Homo sapiens: one gene and its partners. The protein of the gene in region 1 purifies or fractionates together with the protein of each later gene. This does not show direct contact. Each region holds a gene or a part of one and is shown in the gene's direction. Other genes may lie near its edges. The genes, in order: IL9R, NETO2, TM2D3 and EDA.

Region 1 (7,026 bases):
GGGAGCCTGTGAGTAAGGGTGTATGCATCTGCCCTGACTGCCTGGCCCTGTGGTCAAGGATGGGGGAAGGCAGCTCTGCCTGCAGCTCCACCCCATTTATAAAGCACTGTGGTGCCTTCTGCTGGGGCATGTGCTGAGTGGTGCCTCGCAGGCACTGCCCTCGGGAAGTTCACAGGCTTATGTGGAAGCTGGTGGGAATGGGCCAAGAAGAGAGGTGTCAGGAGCCAGGTATTGGGCAGGTCCCAGGTCTCTGAGCCTCAGTTTCTTCATCTGTAGGAGGGTGGTGACCCTGCCCTGCTCAGCTTACCAGGTACAGATGTAAGTTTTCAGTGCAGAGGAAAAGCAGAGAACTTCCCCTCAGATGGCCATACCCCCTTGTCGCTGTACCCAACTCTCCGGTCCTACTTTGTAGCTCTCAGGTGTCACATGTGGATCCTGCCCTACCATCCCCCTTCCCTGTCTAGAAACGAGGCCTGCTGAGCTTGGAGCCATCCCACTCCCTGCTCTCAAGCCGTCTGCTCCTGGGTTAGCCTGTGGCTGGCCTGGCCTGATTCTACATAGATGTGGGTGTTTCTCCACTGCTGGGGCAGCAGTTGTCCATTCTGGGGCCTGGGTCAGCTCTCAGCTGTGGCCGTTGTGCCTGTGCTTCCCCAGGTCCTGGTGGTGACTCCAACCCTGCCCTCACATATCCCAAGAGCAGGCTGACTGCCTTCCCCATTCCCACCTTTCCAGTAACTGCTGCAAGAACGGACAGACACTGCTGCAGAGAACTTGCCACGGTGTTTCATGCTGTGGCTGGTGGTTCCAGGCTGCACGCTCCATTCTAGGAAAGGGTGAGGCTTCCTGATCATCAGTCTTAACAGGGGACTGTCCTATGGGTACCTGTATACGCTGCCGGGAGTGGGGCAGAGTGGGGTTAGAGTAGTGCCTGCTGCCCATTGGTTTGTGCGGTCCTTTAAGGCTGTAAGTCTGTGTGCGTGTCTGGTTTTTTCCTCCTCCTATCAGTAATCAGTCTTGTATAACCAGGCTGGCCCTGCTTCCTGCCTAGGGGCTATCGGTGTACCATCTGGAGTTGCAAATGGGGTGATAGGGCGTCAGCGGCCTTCCCACACCCAAGCACTTCCTGACACCCAGCCCCTCATCTCTAGCCAACCTCTGGCTCCCCTAGGGATCCTGGGGCTCAGGCCTCACGCTCCAGCATCCGGGGGCTTTGCCCTTCTGGTGTTGCTCTTCTTTGCAGGTGCCTTGGAACAGGGGTGCAACAGAGTTCAGAAAGTGCCATCTGTTGCATGGATACCCTGCTGCCACCCTCGTCCACCTTTCTGGGGCAGAACAGTTGGATGGGTCTTTATTTAAGAGGACAAAAGGGAGAGAGAATGCATAGAGGCTGGGTCTGGTGCTCACGCCTGTAATCCCAACACTTTGGGAGGCCAAGGCAGGTGGATCCCTTGAGGTCAGGAGGTCAAGACTAGCCTGGCCAACATGGTGAAACCCCGTCTCTACTAAAAATACAAAAAAAAAAAAATTAGCTGGGCATGGCGGGAGATGCCTGTAATCCCAGCTACTCGGGAGGCTGAGGCAGGATAATCACTTGAACCCAGGAGGCGGAGGTTGCAGTGAGCCAAGATCACACCACTGCACTCTAGCCTGGGTGACAGAGGGAGACTGTCTCAAAAAAAAAAATTTGCTTAGAATTTGTCTGTGTGACCCTGGGCAAGTCATTTCCCCTCCTTGGGACTCAGTTCCTTGCCTGTGAACGGGGACAGTGCTTCTCCCTTACAGAGCTGTTGTGAGAATTAAAGTAGAAAATGTACCTATGGTGGTTGTTGGTAGTGACCAGTTCCCCCAACCCTGACTCCCCTGCAGGATGGGGCCTGGGCCCGGGAATGGGGGATGGGCTGGCAGAGGATGACTGTCCCAGAGAGGAGTCTTCTCGGCAGATGTGGAGACCTAGCTGAGTCAGAGGCCAGGATCTAAGTTTGAGGGTGTTCCTTACACCCTGCAGCCATGAGTCTTTGGCTGAGTCAAATGGCCTTTCTGAGCTCAGTTCCTTATCAGTAAAGCCTGGACAGTGGTCCAGGACGCTGGACACTGTGTGAGTGTTAGGACACAGGACACTGTGTGAGTGCAGGTGGGGACCCATGGAGCACTCTGCTGGGGAGCAATTCATGGGGAGCACCCCTCCAGAGAGGGATGATTTGCACAGGGCCCTCAGCCCAGTCCCTTGCAGGCTGGACCTTGGAGAGTGAGGCCCTGAGGCGAGACATGGGCACCTGGCTCCTGGCCTGCATCTGCATCTGCACCTGTGTCTGCTTGGGAGTCTCTGTCACAGGGGAAGGACAAGGTGAGGGCTGGGCACTAATGTCTGTATGAGGTGGGTGGAGAACTAGGGCATGTTTGGGGGACTGGGTTGTCCGATGTCAAGCCTCTAGGGAAAGGTTTGGCCCAAACTGTGCTGGGGCATGTCCTCTAGGGGTCAGCCTGGACCTCAGTCTCTAGTCTCCCTACTTTTACCTCCCTACCTTCATTCCCTGGACCGACTGTAGTCTCCCTTCCTTCACTCTCTTGACGCCTCTCCAGATCTGACTTGCCCGTGTACCACAGGTCAGAGCCCATCACTTCCCAGGCCTCCCAGTGCTTCCCTGGACAGATTCTGGGATCATTTACTGGTGACTGCCCTGCTAGGGTGTCAGCTGTCAGATCCTCCCCAACCCCCGAGCTCAGCTCTGGCCTGAAGTACTTACCGTGGGCTCCTGATGGTCACTGTCTCCAGGGCCAAGGTCTAGAACCTTCACCTGCCTCACCAACAACATTCTCAGGATCGATTGCCACTGGTCTGCCCCAGAGCTGGGACAGGGCTCCAGCCCCTGGCTCCTCTTCACCAGGTGAGCATGGAGGGCCATGCCCACCTGGACAGGGATGAGGGTGAGTTCCCCAGGATTGAAGCAGCTATGCCAGGACAGTGTAGCAGCCCCGTGGTGCTGACAAATGCCCTTTCCAGCAACCAGGCTCCTGGCGGCACACATAAGTGCATCTTGCGGGGCAGTGAGTGCACCGTCGTGCTGCCACCTGAGGCAGTGCTCGTGCCATCTGACAATTTCACCATCACTTTCCACCACTGCATGTCTGGGAGGGAGCAGGTCAGCCTGGTGGACCCGGAGTACCTGCCCCGGAGACACGGTGAGCAGCAGCTATAGGTCTGGGGCGGGGCCGCTTGGCAAGAACATCCTGGCTGCTTGGGGGTTTGGAGCAGGGCCTTGCAGCCTGTGAGTGGCCCAGTGAGTGTTCTCAGTCCCAGCCGAGTGAGATCCAGGGCTGGGGGCAGGCTTGGCCCTTGGGAGGGGAGGGCCCATATGGTTACTGCAGGGGCAGGGTTTTGGCAGGAAATAAACATGCACGGCTGCTAGTTGGGGCAGGGGCTGGCACTTGAGTCATGTGAAATGCACTTCAGTCATACCAGGAAGGACTCCAATAAGATGCTGGGAAAAGCTTCCAGCAGCAGACTGTGAAGGAAAGGGAAAGCAAGATTTAGAAACCACCTAGTCTAGGTGCAGAGGCCAGAGGAAGTCATTGCTGTCCTGTCCCGCCTGGGGCTTTTGTGGACCAGTCTCCCAGTGAGGTGCCTGGTCTGAGAGGGCCTTGACCATTCCCCTTGGGAGTCTTTCAGACCCCAGTCTTGTGTGTTCTGACTGACACACCCAGACCCATGGGGCTTCAGCCTCACATGGATTCACTCTGTTCCAGTTAAGCTGGACCCGCCCTCTGACTTGCAGAGCAACATCAGTTCTGGCCACTGCATCCTGACCTGGAGCATCAGTCCTGCCTTGGAGCCAATGACCACACTTCTCAGCTATGAGCTGGCCTTCAAGAAGCAGGAAGAGGCCTGGGAGGTAACACTTTGGCTGGCTTTCCCTGGGGGCCTCTCTCCTGGGAACAGCAGTCCAGGGTAGACTCCCCACTCTACATAGGGAGATGTCAACTTGTAGTGATGAGAAGGGAGGAACTAGAGCGGGGTGTGTGTGCACACACACATGCTGGCATGCAGATGTGTATGCTTTATGTGTGTGTATGGGAGTAGGGTGAGTGCGCCTGTGTCTCTGTGTGTGCACATAAGTGTGGTGAGTGTGCATGTATGTGTTTATGTGTACACATATGTAACTGTGCACACTCATGTTTGTGTGCCCATGTTTGTGTGTTTATATGTAAGTGTACATATGTGTGTGCCTGTGCCTTGCATTTGTGTGAGTGTGCACATGGGCATGCCTATGTGTATGAGTGTGTATGTGAGTGTGGTGAGTTGCTTCTGTGCACACACTTTTGTTTATGAGTGTGCATGCAAGTGTGATGAGTGTGAAAGTGTTCCTGTAGACATGTTTGCCTGTGTGTGCATATGTGTATTTGTGGGCAAACGCAGCTGTGTCTGTGAGTGTGAGTGTGCCTTCTGTGTGTGTGTGTGCACGTGAATGTGGTGAGTGTGTCTGTGTGTTAACACAAGTGTGTTCAAGAGTGTGTTATATGAGCATATAATGCATGTGTGTATTCTCGAGGGCTGAGGGACCCAGCCCCACCTTCACCACCTGCTAACTGTCCCCACCCCCACAGCAGGCCCAGCACAGGGATCACATTGTCGGGGTGACCTGGCTTATACTTGAAGCCTTTGAGCTGGACCCTGGCTTTATCCATGAGGCCAGGCTGCGTGTCCAGATGGCCACACTGGAGGATGATGTGGTAGAGGAGGAGCGTTATACAGGCCAGTGGAGTGAGTGGAGCCAGCCTGTGTGCTTCCAGGCTCCCCAGAGACAAGGTGGGCACTGCTGTGGCTGCTGCACTTCCAGCGGAGTCTGGGCTGGGCGTCTTCTCCCCTGTTCACCTCAGCCCTGCACCCTTTCACCCTCCTGTAAGCCCCTCCCCGAGGCAGCCATGCCTCAGTTGACCCCCTTCCTCTGAAGGTCTGAGGTCTGTAGGGAGGACAGAAACACCTGCCAACTCTGGGGCTTCCTGGGAACCTGTAGTTAGTGGCTGCTGTTAGGAGTGAGGGTGGCAGGGCTGCACACCAGGGCTGGGCTCCTGCCTGGAGGCTGGACATGACCTCAGTGTCCTTAATGGGGGCTGGACTGACCCTTGCGCACTGCAGTGCTGAGATGGCCCAGGGACTTTATGACCCACCTTGTGGCAGATGGGAAGAGTGAGGCCCAGGAGTGTGGTTCACACAAGGTCCTTCAGCAGGTGACACAAACCTCCAAGGCCCATCACAAGGTCCTTCAGCAGGTGACACAAACCTCCAAGGCCCATCACAAACCTTCCACTTTGGCCCAGGGCACTAAAGGGCGCACCTTTGCCAGGTGGGTTTGGGGGGAGCCTCCTGGCACTGAGGCTGCTCACAGCCCTGGGCCCTTCCTGTCCACAGGCCCTCTGATCCCACCCTGGGGGTGGCCAGGCAACACCCTTGTTGCTGTGTCCATCTTTCTCCTGCTGACTGGCCCGACCTACCTCCTGTTCAAGCTGTCGCCCAGGTAGGTGGCTGATGTGTGCGTGTGTGTACATGTGTGAGCGGGCAAGAGTGTGCATGTTAGTGTATGTGTGCAGATGTGTGACTGTGTGCATGTGTGAGTGTGTGGTGGGTGGGCCATCAAGGGCCGCCCTTGTCTGGTTCCTCCCCTCCCCTCTCCACTGCCTGGTCCTGGACGGGGTGGGCTTTTCGAGTCTCCACCCTGGTCCAGAAGAGGGTTCTCAAGTTGCCAGGGGAGAGCAGGGAAGGGGGGTCTGAGGCAGAGGCTGAAGATAAGGGCAGCTTGGTCCCGACCAGACCCAGAGTCACCGAGATCAAGAGCCGGAGGTCCTAGTCTCCTGCCTCTGGAGGAGCTTGGTTTGTTCATTTGTTCACATGTTCTACGAAAGGACAGTTGGGGCATCTGGTGTGCTCAGGACCCTGTTCTCAGAACAAGATGGACAAGGGCCCTCCTTAAATAAACCGTCACGCCTCATGCACCACATGTCAGGTTACAAGACAGGGTGCAGGGGCCATGTCAGGCCGCAGATGTGAGGAAGAGGGTGTGGGGAGAGGGGTGTTGGGTGGGGCTAAGTGGGAGGGTGCTTCGCTTCTCCTTGGAGCAAAGGAAAGTGTAAAACTGTGTGACACAACCTAGTTTATGTTTTGAGGAATAGATTGCTGGGACAAGGGGACATGGGGGACCTGCTGGAGGCCAATGGGGGCCAGTGAGGTGCCCACAGGGAGACGATTTGGCATGAGCCAGTGAAAGAAGTGGAGATAGAGAAAAGTGGAGAGAATTGCAGGGTCTCATGAGGGGAAATAGAAGGGACATGTGGGTGGATGAGATATGAGTGGTGACCCCTGAGGTGGGGAAATGGGGGACAGCCTTGCAGGGAGGTTGGTGAAGTCTATTTGGACCTGTTGGGTTGGAGCCCCAGGTGACATCCTTGTGGGAGGGTCAGTGGATCCTTGGCAGCAAGTCTGGTGCTCAGGGAGACACTGGGTGGGGTGGGAGCCACAGACCTTCTGCTGATGGCAAAGACAGGGTTCCTGGAGTGCTGGCTCCCTCTGTGATCTGAGGACCCAGCTAGTAACTCCCCGTTCTGAACCCGCCATCGCAGCTCACGCTGTAAAGGACGCGCGCCTCAGTATAAATCAGTTCTATGCGGCCGTTAGGCAAGGAGGCCCAGTTGGGTCCTGCCCTGAGAGTGGGTTGGAATGTGATGAGATGGGAGAGAGGCAGTGGCAGGGACGAGGTGGGCGGACCTCCTGCTGATGGAAGGAAGCTCAGCCTCTGCAGTGACCTCAGGCCACCTGGGTCGCCATAGGCCTCTGACTGGCCTCTCTTGGCCTCAGGGTGAAGAGAATCTTCTACCAGAACGTGCCCTCTCCAGCGATGTTCTTCCAGCCCCTCTACAGTGTACACAATGGGAACTTCCAGGTGTGTGCAGAGACCACAGAAGGACATGGGGGGCAGGGGTTGCCCAGAGCTCTGGCCTGCCCAAGATGTTGGCTTTCACTGAGGGTTGGCGGCC
Region 2 (7,026 bases), on another chromosome or scaffold:
GGTGGGGCAGGGGGGTTGGTTTCAGGATGATTTAAGCGCGTTACATTTATTGGGCACTTTATTATTATTACATTGTAATATATAATAAAATAATCATACAACTCACCATAATGCAGAATCAGTGGGAGCCCTGAGCTTGTTTTCCTTCAACTAGACAGTCCCATCTGGGGGTGATGAGAGACAGTGACAGATCATCAGGCATTAGATTCTCCTAAGGAGCTCACAGCCTATATCCCTCACATGCACTTGGGCTTCTGTCATACTGAATGGGAAAATAATAAGCTGCCTCACTTCTTGACTTTCATATGTTTTGTTTGTTTCTTTACACTGAAATACTTAATACTACTCTATTGGACTTCTGCCTCCAAGCCAGGAGTTTATTTCCTAACAGAAGTAAGCACACTAATAATAATCCATTATTGTTATCCATAATAGGGCTCCTGCTGCTGTGAGAATCTAATGCCACTGCTGATCTGACAGGAGGCAGTGCTGCGGGTAATGCGAGTGATGGGGAGCAGCAGCAGATACAGATGCAGCTTCACTCGCTCACTCGCAGCTCACCTCCTGCAGTGATACCCAGTTCCTGTCTGTGGCCCAGGGGTTGAGGACCCCTGCTGTAAGAGTTCAATAAATATCTTACTGTGGAAAGGTGATCTAATCTGATATGGCTGTCGTAAATACTCGACATGAAGTGTTTTCAGTTAATCATTCAAAAACAGTAGGTCATGATAATATACTGGATGGGTTAGTCTGATGATGTTAGTTTGCTCTCCCTGGGGTCATCAGTAGATGCGGGTATACCTGAACACAGCAGTTGGTCAAACCTACCATAAAGCAGAAAGCTAAACTTGATAGAACAAGAGTATTTATTTGGCATAGTCTATATTTGTATATTTGATTTGATTTGCAGAATGTATGCATTTATGTGTCTTCTGAAGAAACGGACCAAGAACTTTATCTTCTGTAATCTATCAGTACTGCGATTGGTAACTTTAACCAGAAATTATAATAGGGTTGTTTTATTTGTTTAAAAACCTAATTGTAAATTGCATTGTCTGTAGTATATTTGGCCCAAGTATTCTGTTTTACCTAAAAATACCTTACTAATTTGTACCAGGATTCATATTAATGTATTTTGAAAACTTAACGTTTCTCATTTTCTTTCTGCAGAAAAGAAAAAAGCAGGAGTATTTGAACAAATCACTAAGACTCATGGAACAATTATTGGCATTACTTCAGGGATTGTCTTGGTCCTTCTCATTATTTCTATTTTAGTACAAGTGAAACAGCCTCGAAAAAAGGTCATGGCTTGCAAAACCGCTTTTAATAAAACCGGGTTCCAAGAAGTGTTTGATCCTCCTCATTATGAACTGTTTTCACTAAGGGACAAAGAGATTTCTGCAGACCTGGCAGACTTGTCGGAAGAATTGGACAACTACCAGAAGATGCGGCGCTCCTCCACCGCCTCCCGCTGCATCCACGACCACCACTGTGGGTCGCAGGCCTCCAGCGTCAAACAAAGCAGGACCAACCTCAGTTCCATGGAACTTCCTTTCCGAAATGACTTTGCACAACCACAGCCAATGAAAACATTTAATAGCACCTTCAAGAAAAGTAGTTACACTTTCAAACAGGGACATGAGTGCCCTGAGCAGGCCCTGGAAGACCGAGTAATGGAGGAGATTCCCTGTGAAATTTATGTCAGGGGGCGAGAAGATTCTGCACAAGCATCCATATCCATTGACTTCTAATCTTCTGCTAATGGTGATGTGAATTCTTAGGGTGTGTACGTACGCAGCCTCCAGGGCACCATACTGTTTCCAGCAGCCAACCCTTTTCTCCCATCACAACTACGAAGACCTTGATTTACCGTTAACCTATTGTATGGTGATGTTTTTATTCTCTCAGGCAGTCTATATATGTTAAACCAATCAAGGAACTTACTCTATTCAGTGGAAACAATAATCATCTCTATTGCTTGGTGTCATTTATAGGAAGCACTGCCAGTTAAAGAGCATTAGAAGAGGTGGTTGGATGGAGCCAGGCTCAGGCTGCCTCTTCGTTTTAGCAACAAGAAGACTGCTCTTGACTGATAACAGCTCTGTCAATATTTTGATGCCACAATAAACTTGATTTTTCTTTACATTCCTTTTATTTTTCCTTTCTCTAAATTTAATTTGTTTTATAAGCCTATCGTTTTACCATTTCATTTTCTTACATAAGTACAAGTGGTTAATGTACCACATACTTCAGTATAGGCATTTGTTCTTGAGTGTGTCAAAATACAGCTAGTTACTGTGCCAATTAAGACCCAGTTGTATTTCACCCATCTGTTTCTTCTTGGCTAATCTCTGTACTTCTGCCTTTTAATTACTGGGCCCTTATTCCTTATTTTCTGTGAGAAATAATAGATGATATGATTTATTACCTTTCAATTATATTTTTCTCAGTTATACTAGAAAATTTCATAATCCTGGGATATATGTACCATTGTCAGCTATGACTAAAAATTTGAAAAAGATAAAAATTTCTAGCAAGCCTTTGAAGTTTACCAAGTATAGTCACATTCAGTGACAGCCCATTCATTCCAGTAAAGAATCATTTCATTCACTTTGGGAGAGGCCTATAATTACATTTATTTGCAATGTTTCTCTTCGCTAGATTGTTACATAGCTCCCATTCTGTTGGTTTTGCTTACAGCATATGGTAACCAAGGTTAGATGCCAGTTAAAATTCCTTAGAAATTGGATGAGCCTTGAGATTGCTTCTTAACTGGGACATGACATTTTTCTAGCTCTTATCAAGAATAACAACTTCCACTTTTTTTTAAACTGCACTTTTGACTTTTTTTATGGTATAAAAACAATAATTTATAAACATAAAAGCTCATTGTGTTTTTTAGACTTTTGATATTATTTGATACTGTACAAACTTTATTAAATCAAGATGAAAGACCTACAGGACAGATTCCTTTCAGTGTTCACATCAGTGGCTTTGTATGCAAATATGCTGTGTTGGACCTGGACGCTATAACTTATTGTAAAGACCTTGGAAATGTGGACATAAGCTCTTTCTTTCCTTTTGTTACTGTATTTAGTTTGTGATAAATTTTTCACTGTGTGATATTTATGCTCTAAATCACTACACAAATCCCATATTAAAATATACATTGTACCTGACCCTTTAATCATGTTATTTATGCCACCAAGGTTGTGGATCTTAAGGTATGTATGGAAAGGAACTCATTTATCAAATTGTAAGTAATACAGACATGCCATTTAAAAGAGGTAAATTCTTGTTTTCTATATTTTGTTAGTAAATTCTCAATGAAATAAGTTGAAGTTTCACTGGATTTCATTAACTTTTAAATATTACATATATGTGTTTTCTCAGATTAGTGAAAATTGTGACCTTAAATTTAATACACATATACTGCCTCAGAGTGCTTTCTTGTATCAAAATTTTTGTTTTTTAAAAAAGTAGATAATATTTAGGAGACAGAAAAACCTATACATAATGTATTCATGATTTAAATTTTTTTAAGTCAGCCTAGTTTCTTGTTTTAAAAATATAACGTGGAAACATGAAAAGACTTGATGCATATAATATTCAATGAACTAATACCAGAGACAGCTAAGTTTTTTCAGTAGTTATGCTGAATAAGCATTTTAGTAGGTAACTTACACCAGCTAACATTTGAACAGCATAATAAATACTTAATATAACAACAACTATGATCTTATGATGATAAAAGGGAAGTTAGCATATTTTCTATGTAAAATTATTCATTTTTTAAAATAGCTGTTAAACCTATATTTAATCTTTAGATTATAATAGCAAATAATACAGTATGCTAAACTATAGTCACTTGTAACTACATTTTTGTTTTTGAAATTTGATTTCTATTTATAAGGTCTTGAAGAGGCCTACAAAATACAGAGCCTTTAAAGAAGACATAACAGTAAAATAGAAGTACACAGTTTTATACGAGTCAATGTAGCAAGTAACATTTAGACAGTAAGTTTGGTTCTGAATTTTCTGGCTGCTAAAACACTTTTTGCTTTTCACAGTAAAAAAACTTATGTGCAGAGGCTAATTTCCTCTTGAACTACAGCATGAGGGTCTGTATATAGGAACATTTCTTCAGAATGTAAAAAAGATGCAAAATGGAGACAGAGGTTATAATGGTGCTTCTTAACCCAGTGAAGGCACAACTTAATGTCGTCTAGGAACATTGGTTTAGGGTCAGTCTGTATTTTCAGGGATAGAACTAAAGAACCAGATGATCAATAGCTAAGCCAGCCTTAGCCTGTCACATGTTATACACCTTCATTGAATCATAGATGGGCATTAGATCTCATTTATTTATTAAACTTCTCTATGCTTTTGGAAGAGGTAAGAATGGAACTAATAAATCTTAGGCATTATTGCCAGAATAATGCTAATTGCTGTATATACAGCCTTTAATCTTTGAGATCAGTGAGAAAACTTTATAAATTGCTTACTAAAATGAAAGCCATAAAATTTAATAACAGAAGACATGAAATTTAGCAATCTTGTGGAATTCATTACACAGTATTAACTGTCACGCAGGGTACCCCACACAGTGTCCCAGTGTTGAACACAAAATGCAAATCTGGAAGGGATAAATATCTTCAATTCAGAAACAGCATTAAGTATACCTGTATAATACTGTCACCATTATCTTCCATCTGCAATTCACCGCATCATCCCCCAAATGCCCACAGATCTATTGCAGGAAACCTACTAATCCCAACATCTAAAGCATGTAGGAATAAGATGTGATATTCCTTTTGTGTGTGGGGAGAGTGTCAATCTAAACGTTTAACAAAAGGCAAAGAATGTTCACATTTCACATCACAAAAGAGATTTCAAAGACTCCTTTAACCCGACAGCGCTTATGTCAGTGTCTTTGTCATGTTTCATAGAATTGTTAGACTTTAAAAGAACCTCCTGAAAGTCTGCCTCTGAACATTTGTATGGTTCTGCCAATGTCTGATGAGAAGAATGCTTCCCTGTTTGAGGAGTGTGTTCACTGATGAGAGGGGACGGGAGAAGCCTGGTTGTGATTTCAGGAATAATTCTCAAAGGAGATTATACTCTTATTGCAAAATGGGGTCTGCTATATATTGTTCATGTCACTTTATTGCAAGTGACATGAATTATATGACATTAAAAATAATATGCCTTGAATCACACTGATTAGACCCAGAAGGATCATTGAGTTTTTGGTGGTTTTAAAGATCCAAGAAAGACCTATCTAGCCCAAGTGTATGAATGAGAAGACTGAAGCCCACAGAAGTGAACTCAGCACCAGTGTCTCAAGAACCCCAGTACTCTGGTTTTTTTCTTTTTTGAGACGGAGTCTCGCTCTGTCGCCCAGGCTGGAGTGCAGTGGCGCGATCTCGGCTCACTGCAAGCTCCGCCTCCCGGGTTCACGCTATTCTCCTGCCTCAGTCTCCCAAGTAGCTGGGACTACAGGCGCCCGACACCATGCCCGGCTAATTTCTTGTATTTTTAGTAGAGACGGGGTTTCACCGTGTTAGCCAGGATAGTCTCAATCTCCTGACCTCGTGATCCACCCGCCTCGGCCTCCCAAAGTGCTGGGATTACAGGCGTGAGCCACCGCGCCTGGCCTTCTGTTTTTGTTTTTCTGTTTTTTTGTTTTTTGAGACAGAGTCTCGCTCTGTCACCCAGGCTAGAGTGCAGTGGCGTGATCTCGGCTCACTGCAAGCTCCGCCTCCCGGGTTCATGCCATTCTCCTGTCTCAGCCTCTCGAGTAGCTGGGACTACAGGCGCCCGCCACCATGCCCGGCTAATTTTTTGTATTTTTAGTAGAGACGGGGTTTCACCATGTTAGCCAGGATGGTCTCGATCTCCTGACCTCGTGATCCGCCCGCCTCGGCCTCCCAAAGTGCTGGGATTACAGGAGTGAGCCAAGGCGCCCAGCCCAGCTGTACGTTTTAAAAGTCAAGCACTTCTGTTTAGCAGCCCATGTAAGCTTGTCAATCATTCTGAATTGAAATGTAATTTATTCTGTAATTTCTTCAATGCATTATATTTCCCCTTTTCTTTAAATGTATGTAACATTGTGTTCTACAGTTTTGCTGCCATGATTCCTTGGCACCGTGAATTCTTACTAAGCAATGTTTGTTAACAGTATACAGGCTCGATACTAGGCAGGAAGAGCTCCTGTGTTCTTGCTTTTTTGATCTTTTTTAAATCTAAAGGAGACGTGTATTCTAGAAATTAAATATTTGTGTGCCATATCTCTTGAGTTTTGGAGAATGATTGGAGTTTGAGTTACTGTAAATAACAAGATTATCTTGGATATTTTAGTTTTCTGCAAAATCACTTATGTTTTATATACCTCTGCTAATAATTCAAAACTCTGAATTTGCTTTACTTTAACTTTTTAAAAATGTATTTTTGCAATTGGTTTAATGACTACCAAAGCCTAAAAAGCTAATGACTAGGGTGCATGTTTAGTATGCACTGTCTAGTGTAAGCTTTTTAAAAGCAGTAGATTTTTATTAGAGATGAACTTCCAGGCCATATGAGAATATGCTTAATCCTAGATTTGGCATTTTATAGAAAAGAATTTTGACTCTTGAACTAGAATTAAAAACTTGTTCTGATTTCCTTGCTTGCCTCAATTTCTAAAGTCTAGAAGTGGCAAATAATTTAGATCACTTATACCAACAGAATCTGTATTTCCTTCCGGGGCAAAGTTGGCATTTCCTATCCACTAGCTTCCAAAATACAATAATCCTAGTTATGATAAGGGCAACTTTATTTTATTACACTTAGAACCATTTTATGTTTTCAAATTCATTAATCTTCAAGTGAAGATGAACTAAAGAAAAAAATGCGTTTTGTCCCAGGTTGCCTGCAGGTTGCAGTCTGCTGCATCCGGTCACTGAAGAGGCAGTGAGGACTGTCACAGAGTGGGCTGGAGAGCCAAGCTGTTCTTTCGGGGTGCACAGTGCACCAGCCATAACACAG
Region 3 (6,948 bases), on another chromosome or scaffold:
GACAGTGTTTCAATGATAATGTTTGACACCAGAGTAGGTATTGTGCTGTTTCAGTCAGGCTTCTTATGGTGGCAGAAATCTCAACTTGGTTTAGACAAAGACAGCATTTGTTGGAAGGGTCTTGGAGTATCCCATGACATGAAAGGTAGAATTAAATAGCCAAACCACTAGAAGAGCAATCAGGAGCTCAACCCTCACCAGGAGTATTTCTCCCCATTTCTCGTTCCTGTCTTGCTCTGGTTCTTTATGCTTCTCTTGAATATCTACCTTATTCCACTTATCTGCAGACCGGTTTCTTCCTTCTGTGTGGCAAGAAGCATGGCTGTAGATTCCTGCATCATCTCACAATATGGGTCACTAGAGAGAACAAACTTTTTACCCACATTCCAGAAAGTTCTGGCTGGCTCGCATGGGTCTGGTGTCCACTCCTTGGCTCATCAGGTATGCCAGGTGGAGTCAGCGTGAGCCTGTAAGAGCTCCCCGCTCTCATCTGCACCCTAGTGCCAGGTGGGGTCAGTGTGAGCCTGTAAGAGCTCCCCACTCTCATCTGCACCCTAGTGCCAGGTGGGGTCAGTGTGAGCCTGTAAGAGCTCCCCGCTCTCATTTGCACCCTAGTGCCAGGTGGAGTCACTGTGAGTCTGTAAGAGCTCCCCGCTCTCATTTGCGCCCTAGTGCCAGGTGGAGTCACTGTGAGCCTGTAAGAGCTCCCCGCTCTCATTTGCGCCCTAGTGCCAGGTGGAGTCACTGTGAGTCTGTAAGAGCTCCCCGCTCTCATTTGCGCCCTAGTGCCAGGTGGGGTCAGTGTGAGCCTGTAAGAGCTCCCCGCTCTCATTTGCGCCCTAGTGCCAGGTGGAGTCACTGTGAGCCTGTAAGAGCTCCCCGCTCTCATTTGCGCCCTAGTGCCAGGTGGAGTCACTGTGAGCCTGTAAGAGCTCCCCCCTCTCATTTGCACCCTAGTGCCAGGTGGGGTCAGTGTGAGCCTGTAAGAGCTCCCCCCTCTCATCTGCGCCCTAGTGCCAGGTGGAGTCACTGTGAGCCTGTAAGAGCTCCCCCCTCTCATTTGCACCCTAGTGCCAGGTGGGGTCAGTGTGAGCCTGTAAGAGCTCCCCGCTCTCATTTGCGCCCTAGTGCCAGGTGGAGTCAGTGTGAGCCTGTAAGAGCTCCCCGCTCTCATTTGCACCCTAGTGCCAGGTGGGGTCAGTGTGAGCCTGTAAGAGCTCCCCGCTCTCATTTGCGCCCTAGTGCCAGGTGGGGTCACTGTGAGCCTGTAAGAGCTCCCCGCTCTCATTTGCGCCCTAGTGCCAGGTGCAGTCAGTGTGAGTCTGTAAGAGCTCCCCCCTCTCATCTGCACCCCAGGACCACAAGAGCTGTTCTCTCAGGTGGACAATAGAGAGATGGGATCAGAAGTCATTGCTTCCCTCAAGAAACTTAACTATCAGAGGATGAACCAAATGCTCATTAGATGATATTTAATATTAGTGAAGAAAAACTTGATAAAAACATGTCATGGGACTGCTGACTTAATGTTTGGTAAATTGCTGATTTAAAATACATTTCTTTACCTTTCTTTTCTGCAGTGGTTGGAGAAAAGGAAAAGATAGATAATGCTGTAAACGTGCGAACAAGAGACAACAAAATTCATGGAGAGATTTTAGTAACTTCTGCCATTGATAAACTGAAGAATCTCAGGAAGACACGGACACTCAATGCTGAGGAGGCCTTTTGAAGTCCTTCCCTGATATTTGCTTCTGTGTAACTTTGTTTTGACCCTTAAAAATGTATTTTTCTTAACATGTTAGTACTTCTACGACTTTGGAGCCACTGATGGGTCCACTCATGGCCTCAGCTGAGAAAGGAGACGATGAACGTGTAGCTGACATGCACGAAGTTTAATTTACTCATGTCCACGGGGGACGTTTAGAGGGCACGTGGGAAATTTTCCAGCAATCAATGCCTTGAGAAACTTAAATGGGGAAATATTATTCATCGAGAAAGTGAAACAAAACACTAGGAAATGATTATGAAATGTTAGTGATTTTCAAAAGATGGGCTTCAAATAAAAGTCTGCAGAGTTTTTTTTAAATAGGAGGGAAAATCTTATTTTCTAATATGTCTCAGGTATTTTTATGACTTCTACTAAAATTCACACTGAAACTTTATCTTCTAAACTGGAATCATTACTTAATTTTAACTAACCAACAACCACAAAAGCAGCAGCTACTGCTAAATATTGGATTACTGACAAAGGAATTCAGTTTTGTGGAATCTGGTGTTTGCACTATAGGTTAAGAGTTGCCATTTAAATGTTTCTTATTCATAATTAGGTTTTGTTCCGCTTTAGAAAAAAATAAATTCCCAAATGAATTGCATCAGTGTTTCCAGCGTTTCAGCTGTGGGCTTCTACCACCACTAAGCCGCTCACCTAGAGTTGTTACTTTTTTGATGGGATGACATTCCATGGATTTATGTACTGAAATGGATTTCAGATTTTAAAGAGAGGAATGCTCTACGTGCTCAGAACTGAATTAAAATGGCATTATGTCAATAGAGAATTCAGCTACCAAACAAGAAGTATTGTTTATTTTGCGATATGCTGTGAAATTCAAAAGAAATGTAAGAAATAATCTCTTTTCAATATACTGATCATTTAGTTAACTTCCTGAGGGATGTGAACAGTGAAACAGTTGGCAAACAAAACAATATATATCAGGCTTGTGTAGTAGTATAAGGTGCAGATTGTGTGATATGATTTTTATTATTTATTTTTTGAGACGGAGTCTCGCTCTGTCACCCAGGCTGGAGTGCAGTGGCGCGATCTCGGCTCACTACAACCTCCGCTTCCCGGGTTTAGGCGATTCTCCTGCCTCAGCTTCCCCAGTAGCTGGGACCACAGGCGCGTGCCTCCACGCCTGGCTAATTTTTTTGTATTTTTAGTAGAGACAGGGTTTCACCGTGTTGTTAGCCAGGATGGTTTCGATTTCCTAACCTCGTGATCCGCCCGCCTGGGCCTCCCAAAGTGCTGGGATTACAGACGTGATTCACCGCCCCCGGCCGTGATACGATTTTTAAAGCTAACATTCAGGGCTTATGTGCCGGCACTTTTCCATGTATTTTTTAAAAAGTCATTCAGCAAACATGCACGTGAGGGGGTGGTAGTCAGAAGACCGCGGAATGAACGATCCCGAAGCACGTGGGTGGGAGGAGAGCACCTGTCACCAGCGCTTTCTCCCAGGTGTGCTGTGACAGAAACCGGCAAGGGTCTCCGCAAGCTGGGGCCTGAGCGCGGCTCCCCAGACGGCCGCGACCTTCCCCAGGCAGGGCTGGGCTCTGGACCCTCCCCTCACTTCCCAGCGCCTCGGGCCATCCTGCTTCTCCAGGCCTGAGAGGAACTTTCTGGAAGTGCTGCGTATCTTCAAGAGGCCGGCCAGAAGTGAAAGCCGCGGCAGGCCTGAGCGCCGGCCCCAGGGGAGGGGTCCCTCGGGCCCTCGTCGTCCCGGGGCCGCTTCCCCGACTGTAAATAAGTGTCTTTAGGATGAAACGCCACGCGATAGTGTCCTCGGAACCTTCGCACGAGATCCAGCACACAACATCCGACCACACACTGGGGCGGCCAGCCTCCCGCGTTCGCCCGCCTCTGCTCTTGGTTGCTTCGGGCGCGCATTTCGGTCCACGGATGACCTTTAACAGGTCTCCTGCAGTGGAACCAGGGGTGAGGGCCTCGTCCAAGGGCGTGAGGGGCGCGTGGAAATGGAACAACCTCCCAGGCTCGCATCCTCCTCGGGGACCTCCCAGAAGGCTCAACCGGAAGAAAACCCGCGACCCGCGCGAGGACAGCGAAAGCGCAAACGCCGGCCGCCAGGAGTCGCAGCGCGCCTGCGTCCAGTTCACGCTCCGGCTCCCAGGCGCGCCCCGCCCCCCGGCCCGGAAGTGCGCAGGCGCTGGCAAGATGGCGGGAGGGGTGCTCCCGCTGAGGGGCCTCCGCGCCTTGTGTCGCGTGCTGCTCTTCCTCTCGCAGTTCTGCATTCTGTCGGGCGGTGGTGAGTCAAAGGCTGGGTTCAGCGCCGGGTGGGGCTGAGTGGCAGCAGGGCCCCGGGAGCTGCGAGGAGGCCGGGCCCACGGGCGGACGCTGACGCGGGGAGGAGGCCGAGTGCCGGGCTCCGGGCCGCTTGTCGCTGCATCTGGAGTCTGGCGCCCTGGCCGCCCGGCCCGAGGCCGCCCCTCCGCTCCGGCGACACCGAGCCCGCCATCGCGGCTGCGGAGCCCTGGCACGGAGATGGAGCGCTTGGGGGCTGGGCCGGGGAGGCGGAACTGGAGCGCGATGTCATCCTTCGGTCCCTCGTTGCCGGCTGACCTGAACTGATGTCTACTCTGTTGACGTTTCGTCCCTAAGCTTTGTGTTTTCTGGCTGACCAGCCGTGAGGTTTTCATGAGCAGCTTATTGGCCTGGTGTAGACCCGCCGTGTTAACCACACAAAATAAGGTTTTCTTGTCCCGGGATAACGTGTTTCTCTAATTGTACGATCCTTAAATTTAGAGCAATCGCAGGCGCTGGCTCAGTCAATAAAGGATCCGGGCCCAACACGCACATTCACAGTAGTTCCCAGGGCAGCAGGTACTAGACGTTTTCTATTCTAGTAAATACATGTAGTTATCTCTAGTAGTTTCTCTTTGTTTTTATAAAAATTCCCTTTAGTATACGAAGTCACTTTCCATTTTTGAATATTTATTGTATTTTAGATTATGTGAATTAAGGGTAGATACACAGCCATTTTCAGTAGATAGTCTTCGTATTTATACCTTTTGACGTTTCTGCCTCCTCTCTTTTTCCAATCCCACGCTCATTTGTCACCTTATTTCTATTATTTTTCCACTTCATCCATCAAAATAACCTTCAGTCCGTGCTTCTTTCCCTTCAGCAAATTTCCTCTACTGCTAAAACCCTGTTCCTGATGTTGGAATATTAAAGGCTCCCTCAGGACTGTGGAAATGGAAGGATTACAGCGGGACTGATGGAGACTTGAAATCTAGATCTGGTTTTGCTACTGGGATCTTGAACAAATTATTTATCCTCTTTGGACCTTGGTCCTCATCTTTAAAGCGGTGGGGTTGGTCTGACGACCTAAAGTCATTTCTGCTTTGTGATTCTAAGTGTCCACCTTCCAGCCACATAGTCACGGGATCAAAAAGAGTATTTTGTAGAATTGTTCCTTAATACAGTGAGTAAAGTAGGACCAGTTTTAAACAAGCATTAGTGTGTTTTGCTAGGTGGAGGCTCTGACTATAATTTCATCACTTTAAAGTGACATTACTTCAGTGAATTGAAACTGGCAGAGATATTTTACTGATTCTTATTTGGATGTAAAAAACAGCAGTGCACTTGAATTTTAAACTCAGATTACTTTTTAGAGAAAGCACAAGAGTTCTTAACTCTTGCAGGCTTTTGAAAGCCCTTCTTTTCAGGAATACTTGCAATTTTGATCCTTTCAGTTGGTAAAAATACATTGCACACTCATTAGGTTGGTTGGAAATAAGTTGCAGCTTACTGAAGATGTTATTAAAGTAGAGAACTGTTTTGAACTTTGGTAGCGTAAAACTGTAAATATTATATTAGCAAATGTGGCTTATCGAAGTACCAGTGTGAAATAATGACATTTTAAAGTTGATGCCCTGAGGATGTCAGTGGCTTCATTTCTGAATTAGTGAATTCAGATGAAAAGAACACGGGATTGGAAATGGAGAGATTTGGGTTCTAGTTCCAGTTTTGCCACAGACTTCCTCTGTGATTTTGCAAAACCCTACTGTAAGTTTTTTTTCAACTTACAAAATGATAGTCTTTTTTTTAAGCCCTTAATGTATACCCAGAATTTTCTATACATTATTTGTATATGAGCACCTTTAGTTTTCACGGCCACGTGGGAGGCAGGAATGAAGTAATGTTTTACAAGTGTGGTGCTCACCAGGTCCCACAGCTGGCCGTGGGCAGAATTCTGCTTTAATTGCAGGTGTCTCTGACTCCAGTCCCATGCTTCTTCCCTTCCAGTGCAGTGTCTACTTGCTAATGATCACGTCTCTTAACCTTAGAAGATTGTTCTCTGTTATTCGAATCAGTATTATAGGAGAATAAGCTTCTCTCTTGCCTCTCACAGAAAGTACTGAAATCCCACCTTATGTGATGAAGTGTCCGAGCAATGGTTTGTGTAGCAGGCTTCCTGCAGACTGTATAGACTGCACAACAAATTTCTCCTGTACCTATGGGAAGCCTGTCACTTTTGACTGTGCAGTGAAACCATCTGTTACCTGTGTTGTAAGTACTGCAGCTTACTTATTCTAAATAAATTCATTGTAAACTTTAAGTTAGAAGAACAATTCAGACTTGATTATTGGGAAGAAATTCTGAAGAATTTTTATATTCTTTTATGATTTCCCTTTTGAGTATGTAAGCAGAAATAAATTAAAAAACCCAATAGACCTTTCCATATCAGCTCACTACTGTTTTAGTTATAATGATAACTGTCAAGCCAGTTGATGTCTGCTGGAAATGCACTTGACAGAAATGTTGCTTTGTAGGACTGGAGAAGATCTCAGTCTACTAGCATATCTGAAGCAAGTCTAATTCGTTCAGATGGATTCTGTGTTCTCAATAGTGACAGCTAGTGTACAGAGGGGGTGGCAGTGTCTTTCTGCCATAGATGAGCTTTTGAAGGGCCAGTGCTTATCTGTGGTGAGAAGATGGATTCAGTAAATGCCGGAATGCCTGGTAGCTCTCTAGAACAAAATTAAGTGGAACGCCTGTCTTATCCAGAATAAATTCCAGATAGTCCAAAGATGTAATGTGAAAAATGAAACCCTGAAGTACCACAGAAAACACCAGATAGTTGCTGTTATAATCCCAAAATGGAGAATATTTTTCTAAGTATGAAATAAAGTTTAGAAGCCATAAAATAAAGA
Region 4 (7,026 bases), about 86 Mb from region 1:
AAATGATTGAGATTTTATTGTAAACAGCAGTTTAGTTTTATACTATTATTAGTACTTAGCTTATTTATATTGTGAGTTAAGTAACTTTCTGTGGGCTTATCAGGAGAACTAGCCAAACTTTATTATGTTGATTGTATGAGAAAATGCATTTTTACATTCCAATCAAGTGACTCAAAAATACTACTCAGTTGAACCATGTGAAATTGTTGATTGATATTCAACCATTTTTGACAAAAATGGCAGTTTATTTTGAAATGCAGTCCTGTTGACAAGATGGAAATTACCTACACATTGATTTATTAATTTTATATTTAATACATTCATGTATCCTTCAAGATGCTAATCCTACACCTTAAGGATATTGGGTAAATCACAGAATTTTGAAGAAAATTTGTGTGGAATATTGGGGCTTTCTTGGGTCCAACCCATTTTTTTTCCACTTAATCAGAGATGGAGCAGACATGAGGACTCTGGAATTTTTTATTTTTTGAACTGATAATAGAATGAAAATGCAGATTCATTTGTTCTATTTTAGGCCCCAAATTAACCATTCTATTTTGAAGATTAAGTTTAATAATAATAGTAATAGCAAACATTTATTAAGTGCATGCTACATGCTAAGTACTGTTCTAACTCTGCAACTGTTTTATCTGCAAAGTACTATTATTATCCCTACTTACTGATGAGGAAACTAAAGTTTAAGTAACTTGTTCCAGGTTATACAGCTAGTAAGTGGCAGAGTTGGCATTAGAATCACTCAGTCCTACTACCGTGTTTACTGTTTACCTCAAGCACATGGTTTTACCACAGTAAAGCACTCATGCTAAAAGATTATGATTCAATTCAGCAAATATATATTTAAGCTATGATTATTAGTGAAGCCAGACCCATTCACATATGAAACATATTGTATTATTATCAGAGACCATTATAAGACAGTAGAGGACCAGGTACCAAAATTAGTCTTATAGACCACAAGTGCTATAGGAATCTCAGAAGAGGAGAAAATAATTGTGTACTTTGTCATGACTAACTCCCAGAAGAGCATTGACAAATAGTACCTCAGTATTGGATGCACAGCATTTTGGGAACAAACCAAAATTACATCATAAATAGCAATGTGGCAAAATCATGAATGTGTAATAATGAAGTCCAATGGGGAGCAGCAAATTCAAGGTTTTCTTTCTTTCTTTCTTTCTTTCTTTCTTTCTTTCTTTCTCTTTCTCTTTCTCTTTCTCTTTCTTTCTTCTTTTTTTTTTTTTTTTTTTACAGAGTTTTGCTCTTGTTGCCCAGGCTGGAGTGCAGTGGTGCGACCTCAGCTCACTGCAACCTCTGCCTCCCAGGTTCAGGCGATTCTCCTACCTCAGCCTCCCCAGTAGCTGGGATTATAGGCACCCCCCACCACCACACCCGGCTAATTTTGTATTTTTAGTAGAGATGGGGTTTCACCATGTTGGTCAGGCTGGTTTCGAACTCCTGACCTCAGGTGATCCGCCCACCTCGGCCTCCCAAAGTGCTGGGATTACAGGCGTGAGCCACTGCTCCCAGCCAAATTCAAGGTTTTCTGTTCAATTTTCTGTTCAACTCAAATTCTGAGTGAGCATCCTCAGTATGTGTGGGAAGTTAGAAATTTGTGGCTAGGCTCTCTGAATCCCAGAAATATATGAAGAAATGGGACCTGATGGATTATTTATTAGATATTCAGGGTGGAAGAAATGGGATTCAGAAATTAACCAAAATGTCATGCCTACATGATTGGAATAATAATGGTATCAAAAATAAAATGGTTTGTACAGTGGAGGGGAAGATGGGCTCAGGCTTTAGACACATCAAACTTAAGGTACAGGTAGACTGTCTATGGAAAGCTGGTTTTTTATGTTGGCTATGACTGAGTGGGGTCAACCTTTGACTAATGTACTTGTAATTTTTACAGATGGCCCTATTGAATTTCTTCTTCCCTGATGAAAAGCCATACTCTGAAGAAGAAAGTAGGCGTGTTCGCCGCAATAAAAGAAGCAAAAGCAATGAAGGAGCAGATGGTAAGTCTACTCAGTTGATCCTTTATCACTTCTGAATTATTTGTTAGTAAAAGTATCCTTTTAAGAACTACCTTCTTGGTAGGGCATGGTGGCTCACGCCTGTAATCCTAGCACTTTGGGAGGCCCACGCGGGCAGATCACTTGAGGTGAGGAATTCAAAACCAGCCTGGCCAACATGGTGAAACCCTGTCTCTACTAAAAATACAAAAAAAATTAGCCGGGCCTAGTCCCAGCTGCTTGGGAGACTAAGGCAGGAGAATCGCTTGAAACTGGGAGGTAGAGGTTGCAGTGAGCTGAGACTGTGCCACTGCACTCCAGCCTGGGTGACAGTGCGAGACTCCATCTCAAAAAAAAAAAAACAAAAAAAAAAAACCACTACCTTTTCAAGTGTGCTTCATCATCTTATATACTGTCCACCACAGACCCAAGGTCATAGACTATTTCTGCAGCCTAACCTACCAATCAGTCCTTTAACATAGAACTAACTATACAAGGATCCTCCCTCCTCCAACTCCAGATACCTTCAGTCCTTTCTCAGTATGTCTGAGAGCCATGATAGCATTTGTATCTCTCAAAATCACCCTCTATAAGGGCCTCATCTCTCCCGGAGATGTCCCACACCTATTAAGGTCAACAGGAGGATTTGGTTCTATTCTTGGAATTGACAGTGTTGTACCCTGCTAGCACTTACATGATGTGTTAATTCCAATGATAATTTTATCAATGTTGGTATCCACTACCATGCCCAAATCTGAACTAGACCTTCTAGAACTAGTTTATAAGTTTCTTGTGGGCAGAGATTTCATTTCTCTTTGTATAAGCCTAGAATCTAGCCTACTATCTGGAACATTGTTGGTGATTGTTATGTAAGTCGATGATGTTGACTGCCCCTTCAGCTAGGCAGTGATGTATCAATGGAAACCATCCCTGTTCTGGGTGTAATAGCTTTGAGTTAACTAGCAATGCATTCTGTGGGGCATAACAAAATGTTGAGCTAGCTCCTGGGCAGGGTCTTTGAATTGCTCTGATATTTCAGCATCACTCTGTCAATTGACATAATGCTACCCCTTTGGGCACAGGGGTTTGTAGAATACATAGCTCTGGGCTGCTGCAAAGGCATCTGGATTCAAAGACAGCATGTGTCTGGCTACATCTGCCAATAATATGTGTCTGGAGGGTTACAAAGCAATATGACTTTATACAGATGAAAATGAAAATTTTAAACTGACATTTGTTGATGTGAGTAAGGGCCACTGATGGAAGCAGTTTTAGAGGGCGGAAGCTATTAAAGAGATGGAGCCAGGACTTTGTCAGTAGGGGCAATAAGAAGTATAACTGGCTGAAATCTGAGAAAGAGCTCAGAACAAGGACCCCATAATAATACCAAAAAAAAAAAAAAAAAGAGCCAGAGCAGTAAGATAGGGTTTTCTAGTCAGTGGAGGTGGCAGCAGCATTGAGCCTTTGAATGGAGAACTGGACCAGTGGGGCCATTCTCTAGAGAAGTCATTTTGCATACAATTGATGACCAATTCAAGCCTAAGAAATGCAGTCCATGTAGTAAAAGTTACCCATTATTCACCTACTACTTGTAGCCAGTTTCCCAGAAGTCTTCTGGCTATGTGGAAGCAGGGAGCTAAGAAGCATGGACCCTTTCCTCTCCTAATCATCTCACCCTCTGATACATGTAAGTCTCTCCACCTTCAGCTTTTCCCCTGAGGCTACTCCCACAACCATCAAACTTTTCATAATCCCTGGTTGCAAAGGAAGAGAGGAGACAGGTGGTAAGAGCAATATCACCTTCTATAGTGGGCGTGGTCTTCCCTCCCTCTCTGAGTGGTAAGTCTAATGGCTTCTAAGGTTTACCTCTTCATCTAACCTCCGAAGTTTTCTCTTAAAGAAAATAATTTCCTCCTTTCCCTAAAACTACTTTATCCAAATTCAGCTACCAACGTCTCTGATACCGATCTTCCTTAGAATGTTTATTCTGTCCTAATACAAAACAGTTTTCTCTCTGGTCAAGGTCAAAGCCTCTCATTAATTTTTAGCACTTCTTATATACTTCCCTCCTGATCTGATACTCTAGTCAGTCACTAGACTCTAGTCTCTTGGTGCCAATGCCAAGTTTCTCATGCAGTCCAGGCATTTTTCTTTAATCAGTATAGCTTGGAGGAATCCAAGAGTCCCTTAGAGTTAGGAGTATAGAATGCCTGGGGGTCCTTGAATTTTATTAGATTTCCAACTTTTCACCTGGTGGTCTGTAGAACCATTTCTTTAGATGTGGCAGATGCTCCAATGAGTTAAAGAGTGGTAAGTCAATCCAAATCTCCTTTTCCTTTGAACCATTCTTGTTACTCTGATGAGCGTATACTATATTTATTCAATACACTCATCAAATATTTACTAAGTAAATACAGCAGTTTATATAGTACTTGAATAAACATTCAATAAGGATTTTTTTTAATATTCCCACTGCCTAGAAACAGACTTGGCACCTAGTAGACCCTCAATAAATATGTCCTGTTGCCCTCAAAGTGATTTACTTCCAGCATAAAGAGGCAGACAATAAATAAAGTTGGTTAAATTTGATAAGTGGTATGAAGAAAAATATAGCTGAGCAACAGGGAGAGAGAGTGATGGGGTATGCTGTAAGATGATCAAGGAAGGTACTCTGATAAGGGAACATTTGGGAAGAGACCTGAATGAAATGAAGTAAGAGCTATGCAAATGTCTGGGGAAAAAAGAAGCAGAAAATTCAAAGGCTCTGAAGCAGAAGAATGTTTGGTATGTTCCAGAAAGATCAGTGTGGCTGGGAGCAGAGTAAGAAGAGGAAGAGGGAAGGAGATGAGTTAAGAAAGCAAAATCCAATCTAGAGCCTTGTTGGCCAAGGTAAGGACTCTGGCTTTTATTCTGCATGAAATGGAGGACCACTGGAGGATTTTGAGCAGAGGAATGACAGGATCTGATGTATGTTTTAACAGCATTCCTCTGGCTGCTGTATTGAAAATAGGTGCAGGAAGAAAGGATACAAGCAGGAAGAATCTTTAGGAGAGTATTACAATAATCCAGGCAAGAGATGATGGTGGCTTAGACCAGGATGGAAGCAGTGTGGGTGGGGAGAAGTGGTCAGATTTTAGAGAGATTTTGAAGGAATGGCTGAAGGATTTTTCAGATTGATTAGATAAGGGATATGACAGACAGAGAAGAGGCATCAGTGACCCCAGGGTTTTGGACTTCAGGAACTAAACAGGTAGAATTGCCATTTCTGAGATGAGGAAGCAAAGGAGAGAAGCAGTGTAGAGGAATATGGGGAAAGAGTTTAGTTAGGCTTGTTAAATTTGAGGTAGCTATTAAACAGCCAAGTGGATATATAAGTCTACACTAAACATCACTGTGTATCATGAAAATAAGATGACTCTCTTTTGTACAAAGGACTTGTCATTGAAGAAGTGAGTCAGTCTGGAAACTGCTCTGAACAGAATAAGAGGTAGGATGGGATAGGTAAATCATAGTGGGGTGAGTTATGGCCAAAAAAAAAATCTTATCAGGTGTTGATTATAAATTCACAAATTACTTGATATGTTATAATAAAAATTTAACTATCTAAGCTCAGGTTTGCCTCACAAGTGTCAAAGAACAAGTCATTTACCTTGAAGAGTTAAGAACATGGCAGAAGTTCGTGACCAGCCTGGGCAACATGGTGAAACCCCGTCTCTACCAAAAATACAAAAAAAAAAAAAATAGCGGGGCACTGTGGCACACACCTGTAGTCCCAGCTACTCAGGAGGCTGAGGTAGGAGAATTGCTTGAGCCCAAGAGGCAGAGGTTGCAGTGAGCCAAGATCGTGCCACTGCACTTCAGCCTAGGCAACAGAGTGAAACTCCATCCAAAAAAAGAAAAAAAAAGAAAGAAAGAAAGAAAGAAAAAGAAAGTCTAGACCCTACTTCATTTGTTTGGTCATTCATCATTTAACAAATGTTTTTTACAGGTGCCCGCCACAACACCCAGCTAATTTTTGTATTTTTAGTAGAGACTGGGTTTCACTATGTTGGCCAGGCTGGTCTCGAACTGCTGACGTTGAGTGATCCGCCCACCTCAGCCTCCCAAAGTGCTGGGATTACAGGGGTAAGCCACTGCATCCAGCCTAGACTTTCTTTCTAGGAACTATAGATATTAAGCTTAATGATCTCCACAAATCCCTGTGAGAGAAAAAAATTTTTATAAACAGTTCATTAACTCTTGGAAACGGAAGGGATGTAGTGATCCTTAGGAGCTGCATAGGTTCACCAAGAACAAATCAGGCTGCAGAAGCCTATTTTCCTGTTTTCATCAGACTATTAAACTAGTTGATTAGAGGCATAGCATACACATAGTCTATCTTGCCTTTTAAAAAGAAAGTCAGTGGCAATATCCAGGGTATATACAATCTTTCTGACTCACCATTCAAGAATGACTAGGTTCATCTCAGTTTCTCCATTCAAATTACTTTATAAATGAAAGCATTGGCTAGCTAAGCAGGAGTCTCAAACACATGGTTAGTTTCAACTCTTAGAAAAGAAGTGAATTTCGTTTTCTTTACTACATTTCTTCCTTGAATTCACTGACTTGAGTTGGCCAGAAGTATTTCAGATCGTTTAAGTTTATTCGTACTAATTATGTGAGGCCTTTGGTTGTTGTTCTTCTTCAAAGAAAGTATGATACCTTCACTGTGGGTGTTGAGTCACAACAGTTCTAGAAATCTGTGCCAGGATTTCTTGCTGTGTCTTATCTTTGTGATGTGTTTCTGAAGTAATAATAGCTCCAGGTGGCTTGTTTGGTCATCTCTTGCACAGCACTCCAGAAATCCACAGAACTTTATTTTCTAGTTAGAATGAAATGTAGAATGTATTTGGGAGGTCATGAGGCCTTAGAATCAGGTAAAATGAATCCAGAATTCCCAAGGAGGTAGTTTCCATATTTCACAAATATTATTGTAAAAACATCTGTTCTC

What was found.
Region 2: the proteins of IL9R (region 1) and NETO2 purify together in Homo sapiens (affinity purification with mass spectrometry; 3 studies listed by BioGRID and IntAct, with this or other methods). This does not show direct contact.
Region 3: the proteins of IL9R (region 1) and TM2D3 purify together in Homo sapiens (affinity purification with mass spectrometry; 2 studies listed by BioGRID and IntAct, with this or other methods). This does not show direct contact.
Region 4: the proteins of IL9R (region 1) and EDA purify together in Homo sapiens (affinity purification with mass spectrometry; 3 studies listed by BioGRID and IntAct, with this or other methods). This does not show direct contact.

The regions. Positions count from the first base shown.
Region 1 is NC_000023.11:156,000,676-156,007,701, forward strand, and holds part of IL9R (interleukin-9 receptor isoform 1 precursor), read left to right. Parts: intron 1-654; exon of another isoform or gene 655-732; coding exon of another isoform or gene 733-833; exon of another isoform or gene 834-2,193; coding exon of another isoform or gene 2,194-2,230; coding exon 2,231-2,344; intron 2,345-2,773; coding exon 2,774-2,885; intron 2,886-3,001; coding exon 3,002-3,180; intron 3,181-3,744; coding exon 3,745-3,890; intron 3,891-4,602; coding exon 4,603-4,804; intron 4,805-5,129; exon of another isoform or gene 5,130-5,157; coding exon of another isoform or gene 5,158-5,342; intron 5,343-5,407; coding exon 5,408-5,513; intron 5,514-6,847; coding exon 6,848-6,932; intron 6,933-7,026.
Region 2 is NC_000016.10:47,077,946-47,084,971, reverse strand, and holds part of NETO2 (neuropilin and tolloid-like protein 2 isoform 1 precursor), read left to right. Parts: intron 1-1,170; coding exon 1,171-1,751; 3' UTR 1,752-7,026. UniProt on the Homo sapiens protein: Accessory subunit of neuronal kainate-sensitive glutamate receptors, GRIK2 and GRIK3.
Region 3 is NC_000015.10:101,649,360-101,656,307, reverse strand, and holds the start of TM2D3 (TM2 domain-containing protein 3 isoform a precursor), read left to right. Parts: upstream 1-3,926; 5' UTR 3,927-3,946; coding exon 3,947-4,037; intron 4,038-4,534; coding exon 4,535-4,612; intron 4,613-6,146; coding exon 6,147-6,304; intron 6,305-6,948. Other genes in the region: TARS3 (threonine--tRNA ligase 2, cytoplasmic), read left to right, coding at 1,578-1,726. UniProt on the Homo sapiens protein: Probable positive regulator of Notch signaling.
Region 4 is NC_000023.11:69,955,094-69,962,119, forward strand, and holds part of EDA (ectodysplasin-A), read left to right. Parts: intron 1-1,933; coding exon 1,934-2,039; intron 2,040-7,026. UniProt on the Homo sapiens protein: Cytokine which is involved in epithelial-mesenchymal signaling during morphogenesis of ectodermal organs. Functions as a ligand activating the DEATH-domain containing receptors EDAR and EDA2R. May also play a role in cell adhesion.